Homo sapiens: one gene and its partner. The protein of the gene in region 2 interacts with the protein of the main gene of each other region in a biochemical or structural test. Each region holds a gene or a part of one and is shown on either strand. Other genes may lie near its edges.

Evidence for each region. The genes of interacting proteins can lie anywhere in the genome.
Region 1: the proteins of HIC1 (region 2) and TCF7L2 form a complex in vitro, tested with the Homo sapiens proteins (one study listed by BioGRID).

What each region holds. Positions count from the first base shown.
Region 1 is NC_000010.11:112,946,210-112,953,252, forward strand, and holds the start of TCF7L2 (transcription factor 7-like 2), read left to right. Parts: upstream 1-4,037; 5' UTR 4,038-4,547; coding exon 4,548-4,736; exon of another isoform or gene 4,737-4,798; intron 4,799-4,997; coding exon 4,998-5,064; intron 5,065-5,273; coding exon 5,274-5,398; intron 5,399-5,568; exon of another isoform or gene 5,569-6,133; intron 6,134-7,043. UniProt on the Homo sapiens protein: Participates in the Wnt signaling pathway and modulates MYC expression by binding to its promoter in a sequence-specific manner. Acts as a repressor in the absence of CTNNB1, and as activator in its presence.
Region 2 is NC_000017.11:2,050,129-2,058,112, forward strand, and holds the start of HIC1 (hypermethylated in cancer 1 protein), read left to right. Parts: upstream 1-4,974; 5' UTR 4,975-5,110; intron 5,111-6,181; coding exon of another isoform or gene 6,182-6,218; intron 6,219-6,542; coding exon of another isoform or gene 6,543-6,562; coding exon 6,563-7,984. UniProt on the Homo sapiens protein: Transcriptional repressor. Recognizes and binds to the consensus sequence '5-[CG]NG[CG]GGGCA[CA]CC-3'. May act as a tumor suppressor. Involved in development of head, face, limbs and ventral body wall.

The sequences.
Region 1 (7,043 bases), on a different chromosome or scaffold from region 2:
TGTATTCCCCACTTCGGGTAAATCTGACAGACTAGCCTTGTTTTTCTCAAATTCCAGAGCCAAGCTTTCAATATGGTTTGTCTTCTTTGCTGGTGTGCGTGAATCTCTGAGCCATAACTGGGGCGTGTGGTGAAACGATGGAATCACGGACTTTTAAATATTAACAGGCAACTTAAAAAAGCCCATTCCAACCACCTCATCCACCAGGTGAGACAAGACGAAGGGGCCGTGGGTGACACAGCCTGTGGCAGGCCTATTTCTGCAGTCCCCTGTCAGGCACATTCCTGTATTTCAATGGGCACCTAACACTTCACCATATCTCCCACGTGGGGAACCAACACTTAAAAGGTGATTTGTGTAAACAGAAACCTCCTTTTCATGCTCATTGATAGGGATAAACAAGGAAGCACCTCTGGAAGAGGTAACACTACTCACTTAAGTTTTAAGGTATCAGCATGTATCCAAAGAGAAGGATTTAATCAAGGGAGGGCTGAAGGAGAGGAGAAAACAGAAGAGAAGCAGCAGAAGGGCAGTGGATGAAGAGGGCGAGGTCAAAGTCAGAGAGGCCTAGGGACAGCTACTTACAGTTCAGGACCTGGACTGGCGCCAGGAATGGACTCCAAGGGGTGAGGGCCCAGCTTCTCCCTGCCTTCCTCCCAAAATATGCAGAGACCTAACTGGATTCCAAGGGATGAGGGCACAGCTTCTCCCCCCTCCCACCCATTTCCCAACATGCAGAGCCCATGGTGGCAAAATCCCCTGGCTCAGGCTAAAGTCAGAACTGGTCTGGTTTCCTGTGTTTTTCAAATCTCTGCCATTTGGGCAGAACGCTTGGTCCTATAAACCAGGAGTCATCAGTATCCACAGAGAAGTTGCCTCAGCACTTGGACCCAAGTCAACTGTGTTTAAAATTTCACACCAAATCTATAAATTACACATTCACATTGTGGGCCAGCCTACCTTTTTTTTCAAATAGTATTCAAGGTATTTTTCTTTTTTTTTCTTTTCTTTTTTTTTTTTTTTTTGAGACGGAGTCTCGCTCTGTTGGCCAGGCTGGAGTGCAGTGGCGCCATCACGGCTCACTGCAAGCTCCGCCTCCCGGGTTCACGCCATTCTCCTGCCTCAGCCTTCCGAGTAGCTGGGACTACAGGCACCCGCCACCACGCCTGGTTAATTTTTTGTATTTTTAGTAGAGACGGTGTTTCACCGTGTTAGCCAGGATGGTCTCGATCTCCTGACCTCGTGATCCGCCCGCCTTGGCCTCCCAAAGTGCTGGGATTACAGGCATGAGCCACTGCGCCCGGCTATTCAAGGTATTTTTCAATACCTTGCTGCCTGGCTACTGCAGTGCCAATTCTGCCATTCCCCCCCGCTCCTCAATTCAGGCATCACCTGAGGGACTTGCAGAGCATCAGGGATCTGGCCCCTCTGAGATCTTGCTGGTCTACTCAAGCCTTTGTACAGCACCAGGCAACGAAATTAAATGTGGGACATGCACTATCACAGAATAACTTTTTAATTGCTTAATTAAATCAGAGATTTAAGGAAGGAGAGATTCAAAAGAGTTCCCTTTGAATGAGAAAAATAAGGATATGCCAAAATGGATAAAGTTACTAATCATGGGAACAAAGCCCTTAGTATTTACATATGATAAAAATGCAGGCCAGTATAGTAAAATCAGTAAGTACATTCTTTAAAATTTCAATTCAGTATATTCCTGAGATTTTATTATACAGGTAGTACTATAAAGAACATAGAAGACCTCATTATCCAACTTAATTCAGACCAGGGTTTGATTAAAAAAATAAAAAACAAAAAACTACCACACAGGACAAAGAAATTGCCATAAAATTGAGTTCCTATAAATGTGTTCCAGTTTAAGTAACTAAGTCCCTAAAATGAGCCTTAGTAAAGTCTACGCTGCATATAGACAGACTTAGGCACATCAAGTATACAGGTGACAATTAGCAAGTGTATAAAGCTATGGTCATTTCGCTAAATGTGTAAATCTAAAGGCAACCAAGTAAAAGACCTAAAAAAGGAAACTGTTAAGTCCATTTGTACATGGATTTAACAGTGAAGCATTTCATTCTTCATGTTTTCACTTGGTGTCTTGAAATAATCCCCTTTCTGTCTCCACTCTCCCTCTTAGACACTGCACCTGCCTTATTTATTTATGAAGTCTGAAGGTTAGTCCTACCTGCTGAGACTAATTAGCCCTGTGCTTTGTATCCTATGCAATCCTGTCTGATTAAATGTACACATTTGTTTTACTTCTTTTCAGGCTCCTTCTCACTCTACTTCTGATATTCTGATTAATATCAAAGTTGGGAGTTACAGTGATTCTCCTCTGCCTCCCCCCCAACCCATTTTTATTTTGCCTGCATCTTATTCTTTAGTGTGCAAATGTGGTTGTGATTTTTTTCCAGTGCAGGGGAATTCGTTGGCCTTGTCAATCTCGGTATCATTATTTTTAGTAGTCTTTCTGAGACTTTAGCCTATAAAACAGTTTTGCTGAAACCCCAAACTCTCTAAATATTACATGGCAAATTTGCTTTCTTTTGGAAACCTCGGTGCTGATGGGCCAGCTGAAGTGCAGGTGAGCTTTTTCAGGGAAGGGTGGGACAACAGTACATCCTGGACTCTAGACTAATACTACTCCTAAGAGGCAATTTGCTAAATCCTACTGATTTATTTTTTTCTTTTTTCTCTTTTTCATGTTGTAGTGTCCAGTCTACTTCTTACTGGGTATTTGCAAAAATGAATTTTCTTGCTCTATCACCCAGGAACATTGTGTTTTGGGAGCTGGGTCTTTCCTCTTTAACATAATTCCATTCCCCATTTTGTAGCAAATCAGTCTGCTCCTCCTCTAATACCTAAAAGTCAACAAATACCTGCCTCAAGCCCCAGGTTTCCCATCTTCTCCCGAAGGTCTTCTAGCATCGGTTTGGTTAGCAATTTCCTGCCAGAGCCACCTACATCTTGATTATTTTGGTCAGTCTTTCGGGGATTTCATTTCAGACCCCCTTCGAGAAACACTGTAGCCCAACTGATCCCAGGGGTTGGTGAACTTTCAGTTTTATTTTCCCTGACGGTGTTAACGCCCAAACTTTTCACCTCCTAAGTCAAAAAGGACTTTGACTCTAGCTCATTTCCTACTACCTCCAACGTCAGTTAAAAAAAAAAAAAAAAAAGCAAAACACCACTCTACATTTAAAAGAATCATATATTTTTCCTTAAGGATACTTTTAATGTTTCTGACATTTAGCATTTGTTTTTTGCATAAAAAGTCGTTTTGGCATATCCATCCTAGTGGGACTTAACATTTCATGAAATGATTCACTACTAATAAACAAAAAAGGGAGGAGGGAGGCCTCATGGGTTAATAGTTTCTTTCATTGTAGATGACCAGGAACTTTGACCAGCCCCTTCACTTCCCCAAGCTCTCTGAAAGTGGAGGGTTGATCTTTCCTTTTGACCACTTTTGTCGCATCCCGTCTAAGGGTGGCTGATTTCACTGCTGAATTAACCACCAAGCACCCCCCCACCCCCTCCCCCAGCCACCACTTTCTCAAATACTACCCTTCCTTTTCCCCCTCCCTTAAGACTTATTTCTAATATTTCTAAAGTGCACTGTTTTGGGCCTCTCCCCATCCCCGCCCCCCAAGTGGGCTTTCCTTCCGCCTTCCTCGGCTCGGATTCCTGACTTGGTCGCCACCCCCTTCTCCTCCTCTCCCACCCCGCATTGTCTTTCTGAAACCGCCCCCTCCCGGAGCAAGTCCCTGCACCCTCGCCCAGAATCCCGGGCTCGCACACACTCCGCGCAGGCCGCTCCCCCTGCACACTCCTCCCTCCGTCTCCCCCCGGCTTCCCCGCCCCTCTCTTCCTCCTTCTTTCCCTCCTCCCTCTCCCGGCGCCCGAAAGGATCATTGTTAGCCGCCCCCGCCCCGCCCACCCCGGCTGTTTATTTATGCACACGTCACTGGGCCGGCCCCGCCCTCCGGCATCTCATTAAGGCAGTGTGTTCCTCTCGCCCTGTCAATAATCTCCGCTCCCAGACTACTCCGTTCCTCCGGATTTCGATCCCCCTTTTTCTATCTGTCAATCAGCGCCGCCTTTGAACTGAAAAGCTCTCAGTCTAACTTCAACTCACTCAAATCCGAGCGGCACGAGCACCTCCTGTATCTTCGGCTTCCCCCCCCCTTTGCTCTTTATATCTGACTTCTTGTTGTTGTTGGTGTTTTTTTTTTTTTTACCCCCCTTTTTTATTTATTATTTTTTTGCACATTGATCGGATCCTTGGGAACGAGAGAAAAAAGAAACCCAAACTCACGCGTGCAGAAGATCTCCCCCCCCTTCCCCTCCCCTCCTCCCTCTTTTCCCCTCCCCAGGAGAAAAAGACCCCCAAGCAGAAAAAAGTTCACCTTGGACTCGTCTTTTTCTTGCAATATTTTTTGGGGGGGCAAAACTTTTTGGGGGTGATTTTTTTTGGCTTTTCTTCCTCCTTCATTTTTCTTCCAAAATTGCTGCTGGTGGGTGAAAAAAAAATGCCGCAGCTGAACGGCGGTGGAGGGGATGACCTAGGCGCCAACGACGAACTGATTTCCTTCAAAGACGAGGGCGAACAGGAGGAGAAGAGCTCCGAAAACTCCTCGGCAGAGAGGGATTTAGCTGATGTCAAATCGTCTCTAGTCAATGAATCAGAAACGAATCAAAACAGCTCCTCCGATTCCGAGGTAGGAAAAGCCCCTCGGGCTGGTGGGGTTTTTTATCTGTTTCCTGGGCTTGGCAAATGTTGCTGAAAGGGGAGAAATCGGGGCTGGGGGCGGCGGCGGGGCCCGGCGGGCGGCGTGTGCGTACGGTGCCACCATTGCAAAAACTTGTAACCCTGTTTTTTTCTACCCCCCCCTCGACCTCGCCGATTCTTTTTCTCCCCCTTCTCCCCCTTCTGCGTGGCGTTTGCCCCTCGCCCTCCCCACCTCCACCCCTCTGGGAAGGCGGAAAGACGGCCTCCGCCTCGCTCCGAAAGTTTCCGAGACAAATCCCGGGAAAGTTTGGAAGAAGGTGAGTACGCCCCGCGCGCCCCGCAGCCGCCCGGAGCCGCCCCCCGGGCCGGCCGCCCCGCGCGCCCCGGCCCCGCGCCCGGCTCGGCCTGGCCCTGCGCCGGCCCGGTCGGGGCGCCCGGCCCCTCGGGGCACTTTCTAAAAAGTTTCTCCTCACTCTCTCCCGCTCCGCGCGGCCGCCGCTGTCCCCTCGCCGCCCCGCCATGTTAGCGGCCAAGAGGCAAGATGGAGGGCTCTTTAAGGGGCCACCGTATCCCGGCTACCCCTTCATCATGATCCCCGACCTGACGAGCCCCTACCTCCCCAACGGATCGCTCTCGCCCACCGCCCGAACCGTAAGTGCCTCCGCGCCCGGCCCCCGCCCGCTGCCCGCCCGCCCGCGCCGCCCGCCGGGCCCCGCATGCGGCCCCTGCCCTGCCCCCTCCCCGCCTCCCCCTCCCCGCCTCCTCCCCTCCCTCCCTCCCCTCCCCCGCTCGTGGCCCAGGAGGCCCGAAACTCTCCAAACTTTTCTGCCTTTTGTGGACTGGATTTGTTTGCACTTCGCCACGTTCTTGCTTTCAGTTTGCTGCCTCGTGATGTTGGGGAGACCTCTCTGTCCAAGCAGGGCTTTGTTGGTGGGGAGGGGGGGGAATCCGAAGAACTTTCCTTTGCGTTCTGGTTCCCCCTCCCCCTTTGGTGGTGGTGTTTGTTTCTTCACCCTGGGAAGATGACTCTGTGGCTCTTCCTTTGCTCTCTCTCCCTCTCTCTCCTTCTCTTCCTTCCCTCTTCTGTGGCGTCTTGGGCTTTCCCCGGTTAACCCCTTGGCTGCCGCTGCGGGCCACGAGTGACTGACTGTGCTGCGCCCGATGCGCGGGGTAGAGAGTGGGTTTCCTCCAGGCATTGGACTTGAGAACTGGCTAGCGCGCAGAGCCCGGGGCCCTGGAGAGGCTCCTTGGCTTTCTCTTTTGGGCGACTATGTATTTAGCTTTCTAGTGGAGATTGCTGGCTCTCGGCCCTCCTTCCCCCTTCCCCTGGAAGGTCACACTTCCCAGATTGGTCCCACCGCAAACTTGGGGGCTCTGAGGCGTCCTTTTCTTTGGCAACCCGCAGGGCCGCGAGCGCCCTGGGCGCCGTGGCGGGCTCCGCTGCCCGGCGCACTGGCTGCGGGCTCTCCCGGGCCGCGCAGGGCAGCAGGGCTGAGTGGGGCGGGGAGGCCCCTGCGGCCCGGATTCTTGGTTTGTGTGCAGCCGGAATGGACTCCTCCAAGCGGACTTGTGTATTTCTAGGGAATTTTGGCGCCTTGGGATGTATGGCGGGGTCGGCGCTCGCCAGCTTCCGTGTAGGCCCGTCGTGGGCCCCAGGGGGGCCAGAGACCAGGGTGTGCGGGCTCAAGGAGGTGCGGGGGCCGAGGGAGGCTGGGGCGCCTCTCCTTCAAGGGAGTGGGCCGCCGATCGCCGGCCACCCAACTTTGGGGGCCCCAGGGCAGCGCGGGGTGCCGGGCTCGGGGGGCGCTTCCTGCAGGGTCGGTCCCGCGCCCAACCCTGACATTTGTTAATACGGCTCATCCCCTCCCCCACCGGCCTGTGCCCCCTGCCCTCACCCTGAACCCCCTCCTCCTCATCCCTCCCTCCCTCTTCTAAGAAGCCTGGATTACGAATCCCTGGACGCAAGACGCATTTGTGCCCGGCTTCCCGGTATTGTCATTTTACACCTTCTCCAGTTTGGTCCCCTACCCCTTATTTACACACACGACTTTTGTTTTTTCTTTTTCGGTAACTCTAGATAGCAATTTGAAATAATGCACCCACTGTTCAGCAGCCATGGATTCGGTGCTAATGGCCGAGGGCTTGCCGGACGGGAGTCGATCAGATCTACAAGTGTTTTTAAGCATTAAAATATTAACTATCAGGTTTGACTTGCTTTTTTGGGCCCTGGCAAAATGGCAAGGGCATGCTAGACCGGTCATTTTTTTTATGGCTAGGGAAGAGAAATAATTATTCC
Region 2 (7,984 bases):
ACGGGGCGGCCCGATGGCGGCGCCTGCGTTGATCAGCACCGCGGACAGCGGCGGCGCAGGCAGCGGGCCGGGGGCGGGGCCCTGAGGGACGGGGACTGGGGGTCCCCGGGCGCGGCGGCGGCGGCCGGGGCCGCGGTCCTGGGGCGGGGCCAGGCGTCGGTGGCCGTGACTGGAGACTGTTACTGAGGGCGGCCCGGGCAGTAAGCAGTCTAGAGCCAAGGTGCCGGCGCGCTGTCCGGGCGGGGTGCCCCGGTCGCCCCGGCTGCCCCGGCTGGGGGCTCTGCTGCTCCGCCTCCCCTGCGTCTCCCGCCCTGCCCCGCCCGGCGCTCGCGACCAGGCACGCGGCCCCTGACGTCAGAGGGCCGTGACGTCAAAGATGTCCCAGAGGGGGCACTTCCGGCGGGGGCGTGGGGGCGGGGCGGGACCTGGGAGGCCCCGCCCCCCCGGTCCTGAGAGGACAGCTCCGCTCGCAGAGGCGGGAAGCCGTGGGCGCCGCGGGACCCGCTGGACGGGACCTGCCGGGAAGGGGCGCCCGACGCCATGCGGGGCGGGGGTCCCAGGAGGGCCGGGGAAGCGGGGGTGGGCGTCCGTCTCTCGCCTGCACCCCCGCTCAGCCGGCCCGGGCAGCGAGGCTGAGTCACCGCGCCGCAGGGAGGGAGAGGAGGGGGCGCGTCTCCTGGGGCGCCAGCACCTTCGCCTCACTTTCCTGGGAGAATGGCGCAGGAGCCCCAAGAAAGCCGGGGGGGGGTCTCCGAGGTCGGTCCTCCACTCGATGCTCCTCCGAAGTAGCTGCGTGTCCATCGGGCGCCGGCAGGTGCTGCGCGGGCTCGTGTCGTCTCTGGCCCCGGCTCCGCAGCCGCGAGGGGACCCCGGTGCCCCCCGTCCGCCCCCATCCCCACCCCGGAGGGGCCGCCCCACCCGCCGCCTGCCCGTCCCCTCCTCGTCCTCCCGTCCGTGTCCGCACATCTGTCCCTCCGCGGCTGGTCCGTCCCGCTTACCTGGCGGGCCGCGTCGCCACTGCCCGGTCGCCTCCCGCAGCCTGGCCGGCGCGGCGGCTTTTATAGGCGCGCGTAGTACTCGTGCGGCGGCTCATTCATGCGGCCGCGGCTCCTACACACTGACGCGCTGCCGACGTCAGCGGGGAATTTAGGAAATGGGAAAAGGGGCTATTTATAGTGGCGAGGCGGGGGGTGGGGACCGAGGCGACCGGGAGGGGAGGAGGGGGCGCGGAAGCGGCGGCGGGGTAGGGGGAGCCGCGCCCCTGCCCAGCCGACAAGGGGTTAACTTTCCGGAACCGCGGGCCTGGGGCCGGGGAGGCGGCGCGGAGGGGCGCGGCGGGCCCTTCGAGCTTATTCACGCTCTCCTTCCGGAGCCCCGCGGCTCCTGGGGGTCTTCACGTGGCAGCCCCTTCCCCCTCCTCAGTTCCTGGACCTGACGTTTCTGCCGTCACACCCCGCAAGGCCACTGCGGTGTCGCCACCCTCTCGTCCTGCAGGGTGGGCAGGAGAGGAAGCTGGACTCCCGTGGGGGCCTGGGGCGCAGCGAGGGCTGTGGCGTCGGGGGCCGGGAGAAGAAGAGTAGGGGAGCCCAAAGTAGCCCAGGAGTCTTTAGCGGAGGAACCTGGGCCTGGGAGGGAAGGCCCAGCGGGGATTCAGGTACCACCCAGGAGCTGGAGACCCGAGGGACGGCAGAGAAGTTGGGGAAGGTGGGCCAACCTCCCCAGAAATGATGAGCAACGGGATCCTCTATGAGGGAGCTGGGGGAACGCGCCAGAGGTAGGGGTGAGAGGAATGGGCAGCCTCAGCAAGGGAGAGAGGAAAGGCTGTCAGTGCCACGCTCCAGAGCCTGGCATCCAGGACCCACCTTCGGACCATTTGTGGCACGATGGACGCTCCCAGAGCTCACGTTAGGGTAATAGAGAGTGAAGGAGACCAGCAGCTTGGCCAAGAGGGGCCCCCAGGGGATGAGGAGGACGGTTTCCTGGAGAAGTTAATGTTCCCGGAGACCAGAATTGGCAGGGAGAGCCCATGACTTGTGGGGCAGTTCCCCTGGTTGGGAGCGGGGAAATGCATGGTCCTGGCCCAGCCTGGCTCCATCGAGATGGAGGAAGGGTCTAAATGAGAGGAGTGTGTTCAGACGAGGAGCTGGACCAGGATGGGGAGGGCTGTGCAAGGCATGGCCGGAAGAGCGGGGCAGGGAGAGAAAGGTCGAAGAGTGAAGTGCACAGGAGGGCAAGGCGGTCCTCACCCTGCCTGGGCTGGGGCAGGGCTGTGAGACCCTCCCTTACAGAAGCAATGAGGGCTTGAGGAGGGGGTTAGGGGCCTGGGCTGGGGCAGGGCTGTGAGACCCTCCCTTACAGAAGCAATGAGGGCTTGAGGAGGGGGTTAGGGGCCTGGGCTGGGGCAGGGCTGTGAGACCCTCCCTTACAGAAGCAATGAGGGCTTGAGGATGGGGTTAGGGGCCTGGGCTGGGGCAGGGCTGTGAGACCCTCCCTTACAGAAGCAATGAGGGCTTGAGGAGGGGGTTAGGGGCCTGGGCTGGGGCAGGGCTGTGAGACCCTCCCTTACAGAAGCAATGAGGGCTTGAGGAGGGGGTTAGGGGCCTGGGCTGGGGCAGGGCTGTGAGACCCTCCCTTACAGAAGCAATGAGGGCTTGAGGAGGGGGTTAGGGGCCTGGGCTGGGGCAGGGCTGTGAGACCCTCCCTTACAGAAGCAATGAGGGCTTGAGGATGGGGTTAGGGGCCTGGGCTGGGGCAGGGCTGTGAGACCCTCCCTTACAGAAGCAATGAGGGCTTGAGGATGGGGTTAGGGGCCTGGGCTGGGGCAGGGCTGTGAGACCCTCCCTTACAGAAGCAATGAGGGCTTGAGGATGGGGTTAGGGGCCTGGGCTGGGGCAGGGCTGTGAGACCCTCCCTTACAGAAGCAATGAGGGCTTGAGGATGGGGTTAGGGGCAGTAAGTTAACTTGGGGAGCGGATGTGGGGGAACGCTGAAGAATAAAGACTGTGGGCACAGCAGACCCCTGGGGCAGGTTAGCAATGCACAGACTCCACTGCACAAGATACATGGGGCGGAGGGGCTCTTTGGAAGTCGGGGGTGGGGGATCTGACTCTATCAAAAAGAGAAAAGATAAAAGAGATGGGGTCAGAGAGGCCCTGCATAGTCTGGATTTGGCCTACTAGAGCTCCAGTTTTCTTGCCGCTAGCCTTTGTTCCAGGGATTCTGTTATTCACAAATGCCTTCCTGCTCGGTAGAAGAACTCCTATTCATCCGTCAAAGCCCAGCTCTAGGAGCACTTATGAGGAGCCTCTCCACCTCCCCTCAACACTCCGTAACTTCCACCTCAGGCCGCAGCACGTCCCTCGGGCGAGATGTCGGGGTCCGCCTTCCCTAGAGACCGGCAGCTCCGGAGGCCTCCGTTTTCCTCTTTGGGACCTCACTGCTTCTAAAGTGAGGATGCTATGGGGAGACATGGGAGAGGGAGTGGGTAAGATGGATCCAGAACATGGGGCGGACTCAGGCAGCGGCGGGAATCAGGCGGACTCGTTTGGACCGAAGCCTCCGCCAGGCACCGAAGCCGTGAAGTCGCCTGCGCAGCAAAGGGAGCCTCCGGGGGGCGCCCGAGACCTTGGTGTCGCTCGGGGGCCGCTGGTAGCCGCGCCCGCTGCCCCTCGCCCGGTGACTCAGCCGGTACCTCTGGCGGGGCCATGGGGGCCAGAGGACAGCGCGGGGGGCGGCGAGCGCGGTTGCTAAGCTCTCCAAGGCCTCGGAGGGACAGGATCTGGGCGCACCTCACCGGTTGCCATGGTAACGCAGCGCCCCAGCCCCTCGCGCTCCGCGGTGGAGGGAGGCGCAGCCAATCGGAAGCGGCGGAGTTCTCGGGGACCCCCCCCCCCCCCGCTCCACGCCGTGTGTGGGCGGGGGTCAGGAGGTGCGGGGCGGAGGCGGAGCGTGGGCCGCGGAGATCCGGCGTTCGCAGGAGGCTTGGTGCGCGGCGGGGCTGCACGGGGCCACTTCCGGAGTAGTACTGCGAGCAGCGGCGCGACAGTGCGGGGTCCCCTTTCTCCCAGAAGAGACGTCACCCACACAAACCTGACCTTCACGTGGGGCGCGGGACCTTGCGGGGTCCCAGCCGCAGGCGCCCCTGTTGTTTCCTTCGGGCGGGTGGGTTGGAGAAGAAGTCCACGCGGGATTCTTCAAAACGGCGTACAGGGGGATTCTAGGGCCCCATGGTTACTTCTTTGGACCCCCCGGAGGCGCTGTCCAGCCACTTCCAGTCGCCCTGATGACTCGTCGTGGGTTCCTTTAGGAGACCCGAAAGTTCAGGGCGGGCTGTGTGGGTAACACCTCTGCCCAGGTTCCCGGAGGGCCCTACGTGGCTGCCCCTGGAGTATCCCAGAGCGCTAGGGCTGCGGGAAGGGGCGGGTGTGCTTCTGGAAACATGAGCGCCTGTTAGTATCAGTGCCTGGATAGGGCTGGGGACAAATCAGTTTATGCCGCGCACACCGAATCCATGCGCCTGAGTGAGGGTGGGTGTGTTGGGGAGTGCGTCCAAGTGGACAGTGCCGTACAGTAATGTCTACGGGGAGTTCCAGGAGAGCTCGGCTACTCCTGCGCAGGATAACCTCTCCCCCACCACCCGAGTCCCGTGCTCGCGGGCAGGACTTTTCCGAACTGGGGCTGTGTGCCTAGAAATACGTACATGGGAGCGCTCAGCTCAAAGCCCCAGGGTTTCTGGGACTCGCGTGTCCGGGGTCGGGGTCCCAGGTGGGTACAGGTGGGAGGGCGAACCTGCGGGTAGGGTGGGCCCCTCCCCGCGGGCTCAGCATCTGTGCGCCTCCAGCTCAGGTGCGCGGGAGGAAGGCAGCGGCCTGCCGCGCAGAGCCCTGCGCGCCCGCGAGGTGGCGCCATAGCCGCAGCAGCGCCCGCCGGCCCGGGCCGCTCCAGATAAGAGTGTGCGGAAAGCGCGGCGGGGCTGAGACGCGACCAGGACGCGGGGAGGACGGACCAGCAGGACAGACCGACCGGGGGCCCGGCGGGCGGAGGGCAGCGCAGCCACGTCCCCCCTGGATCCGCCGTCAGCCGGGCCCGGGGCTTTCGACATGCCCCCCAGGTGGGTCCTCGAGCCGGGGACCGGGAGGGACGGGGGACCCGGGACAGCCCGGTCCTCGTGCGTCGGCCGCCTCGGGTGCATCTTCTGGCGCGGGTGCCCCATCGCGGCTGGCGGCTGGCGTTCAGGGCTCCGGGTGTCGTCCCTTTCGGACTCAGGACCACCGGGCCGCGGCTCCGCGCCGGGTTCACGGCGGGGTCAGCGGCCCGGGGCCGGCTCTGCCCGCACATGGGCTGGAGAGGCGAGGGGAAGGGAAGGGAAGGGGAGCTGGCGGGCGGGGCTGGCAGGGGCGCTGCCCTGGCACAGCTCGGGGCCTGGCAGCGGCGGGTGGGGCATCGGCTAAGAGCTGCCACCGCCGCGGGGAGGGGAGCCCGGCCCGCCGGGACCGCAGGTAACGGGCCGCGGGGCCCCGCGGGCCAGGAGGGGAACGGGGTCGGGCGGGCGAGCAGCGGGCAGGGGAGCTCAGGGCTCGGCTCCGGGCTCTGCCGCCGGATTTGGGGGCCGCGAGGAAGAGCTGCGAGCCGAGGGCCTGGGGCCGGCGCACTCCTCCCGCCCTGTCTGCAGTTGGAAAACTTTTCCCCAAGTTTGGGGCGGCGGAGTTCCGGGGGAGAAGGGGCCGGGGGAGCCGCGGAGGGAGGCGCCGGGCCCGCGCGTGTAGGGCCCAGGCCGAGGCCGGGACGCGGGTGGGGCGCAGGCCCGGGTCAGGGCCGCAGCCGGCTGTGCGCCGTGCCCGCCCGGGGCGCTGCCCCCTCCCTCCCCTGGGAGCTGCGTGGCTCCCCCCTCCCCCCCACCTGCTTCCTGCCTCAGCCTCCTGCCCCGATATAACGCCCTCCCCGCGCCGGGCCCGGCCTTCGCGCTCTGCCCGCCACGGCAGCCGCTGCCTCCGCTCCCCGCGCGGCCGCCGCCCGGGCCCCGACCGAGGGTTGACAGCCCCCGGCCAGGGCGGCGCCAGGGCGGGCACCGCGCTCCCCTCCTCCGTATCACTTCCCCCAACTGGGGCAACTTCTCCCGAGGCGGGAGGCGCTGGTTCCTCGGCTCCCTTTCTCCCTACTTGGGTAAAGTTCTCCGCCCTGAATGACTTTTCCTGAAGCGGACATTTTACTTAAATCGGGTAACTGTCTCCAAAAGGGTCACTGCGCCTGAACAGTTTTCTTCTCGGAAGCCCCAGCACCCAGCCAGGTGCCCTGGGGCGTGCAGGCCGCCCTGGCCTCCCCTCCACCGGCGGCCGCTCACCTCCTGCTCCTTCTCCTGGTCCGGGCGGGCCGGCCTGGGCTCCCACTCCAGAGGGCAGCCGGTCCTTCGCCGGTGCCCAGGCCGCAGGGCTGATGCCCCCGCTCAGCTGAGGGAAGGGGAAGTGGAGGGGAGAAGTGCCGGGCTGGGGCCAGGCGGCCAGGGCGCCGCACGGCTCTCACCCGGCCGGTGTGTGTCCCCGCAGGAGAGTGTGCTGGGCAGACGATGCTGGACACGATGGAGGCGCCCGGCCACTCCAGGCAGCTGCTGCTGCAGCTCAACAACCAGCGCACCAAGGGCTTCTTGTGCGACGTGATCATCGTGGTGCAGAACGCCCTCTTCCGCGCGCACAAGAACGTGCTGGCGGCCAGCAGCGCCTACCTCAAGTCCCTGGTGGTGCATGACAACCTGCTCAACCTGGACCATGACATGGTGAGCCCGGCCGTGTTCCGCCTGGTGCTGGACTTCATCTACACCGGCCGCCTGGCTGACGGCGCAGAGGCGGCTGCGGCCGCGGCCGTGGCCCCGGGGGCTGAGCCGAGCCTGGGCGCCGTGCTGGCCGCCGCCAGCTACCTGCAGATCCCCGACCTCGTGGCGCTGTGCAAGAAACGCCTCAAGCGCCACGGCAAGTACTGCCACCTGCGGGGCGGCGGCGGCGGCGGCGGCGGCTACGCGCCCTATGGTCGGCCGGGCCGGGGCCTGCGGGCCGCCACGCCGGTCATCCAGGCCTGCTACCCGTCCCCAGTCGGGCCTCCGCCGCCGCCTGCCGCGGAGCCGCCCTCGGGCCCAGAGGCCGCGGTCAACACGCACTGCGCCGAGCTGTACGCGTCGGGACCCGGCCCGGCCGCCGCACTCTGTGCCTCGGAGCGCCGCTGCTCCCCTCTTTGTGGCCTGGACCTGTCCAAGAAGAGCCCGCCGGGCTCCGCGGCGCCAGAGCGGCCGCTGGCTGAGCGCGAGCTGCCCCCGCGCCCGGACAGCCCTCCCAGCGCCGGCCCCGCCGCCTACAAGGAGCCGCCTCTCGCCCTGCCGTCGCTGCCGCCGCTGCCCTTCCAGAAGCTGGAGGAGGCCGCACCGCCTTCCGACCCATTTCGCGGCGGCAGCGGCAGCCCGGGACCCGAGCCCCCCGGCCGCCCCGACGGGCCTAGTCTCCTCTATCGCTGGATGAAGCACGAGCCGGGCCTGGGTAGCTATGGCGACGAGCTGGGCCGGGAGCGCGGCTCCCCCAGCGAGCGCTGCGAAGAGCGTGGTGGGGACGCGGCCGTCTCGCCCGGGGGGCCCCCGCTCGGCCTGGCGCCGCCGCCGCGCTACCCTGGCAGCCTGGACGGGCCCGGCGCGGGCGGCGACGGCGACGACTACAAGAGCAGCAGCGAGGAGACCGGTAGCAGCGAGGACCCCAGCCCGCCTGGCGGCCACCTCGAGGGCTACCCATGCCCGCACCTGGCCTATGGCGAGCCCGAGAGCTTCGGTGACAACCTGTACGTGTGCATTCCGTGCGGCAAGGGCTTCCCCAGCTCTGAGCAGCTGAACGCGCACGTGGAGGCTCACGTGGAGGAGGAGGAAGCGCTGTACGGCAGGGCCGAGGCGGCCGAAGTGGCCGCTGGGGCCGCCGGCCTAGGGCCCCCTTTTGGAGGCGGCGGGGACAAGGTC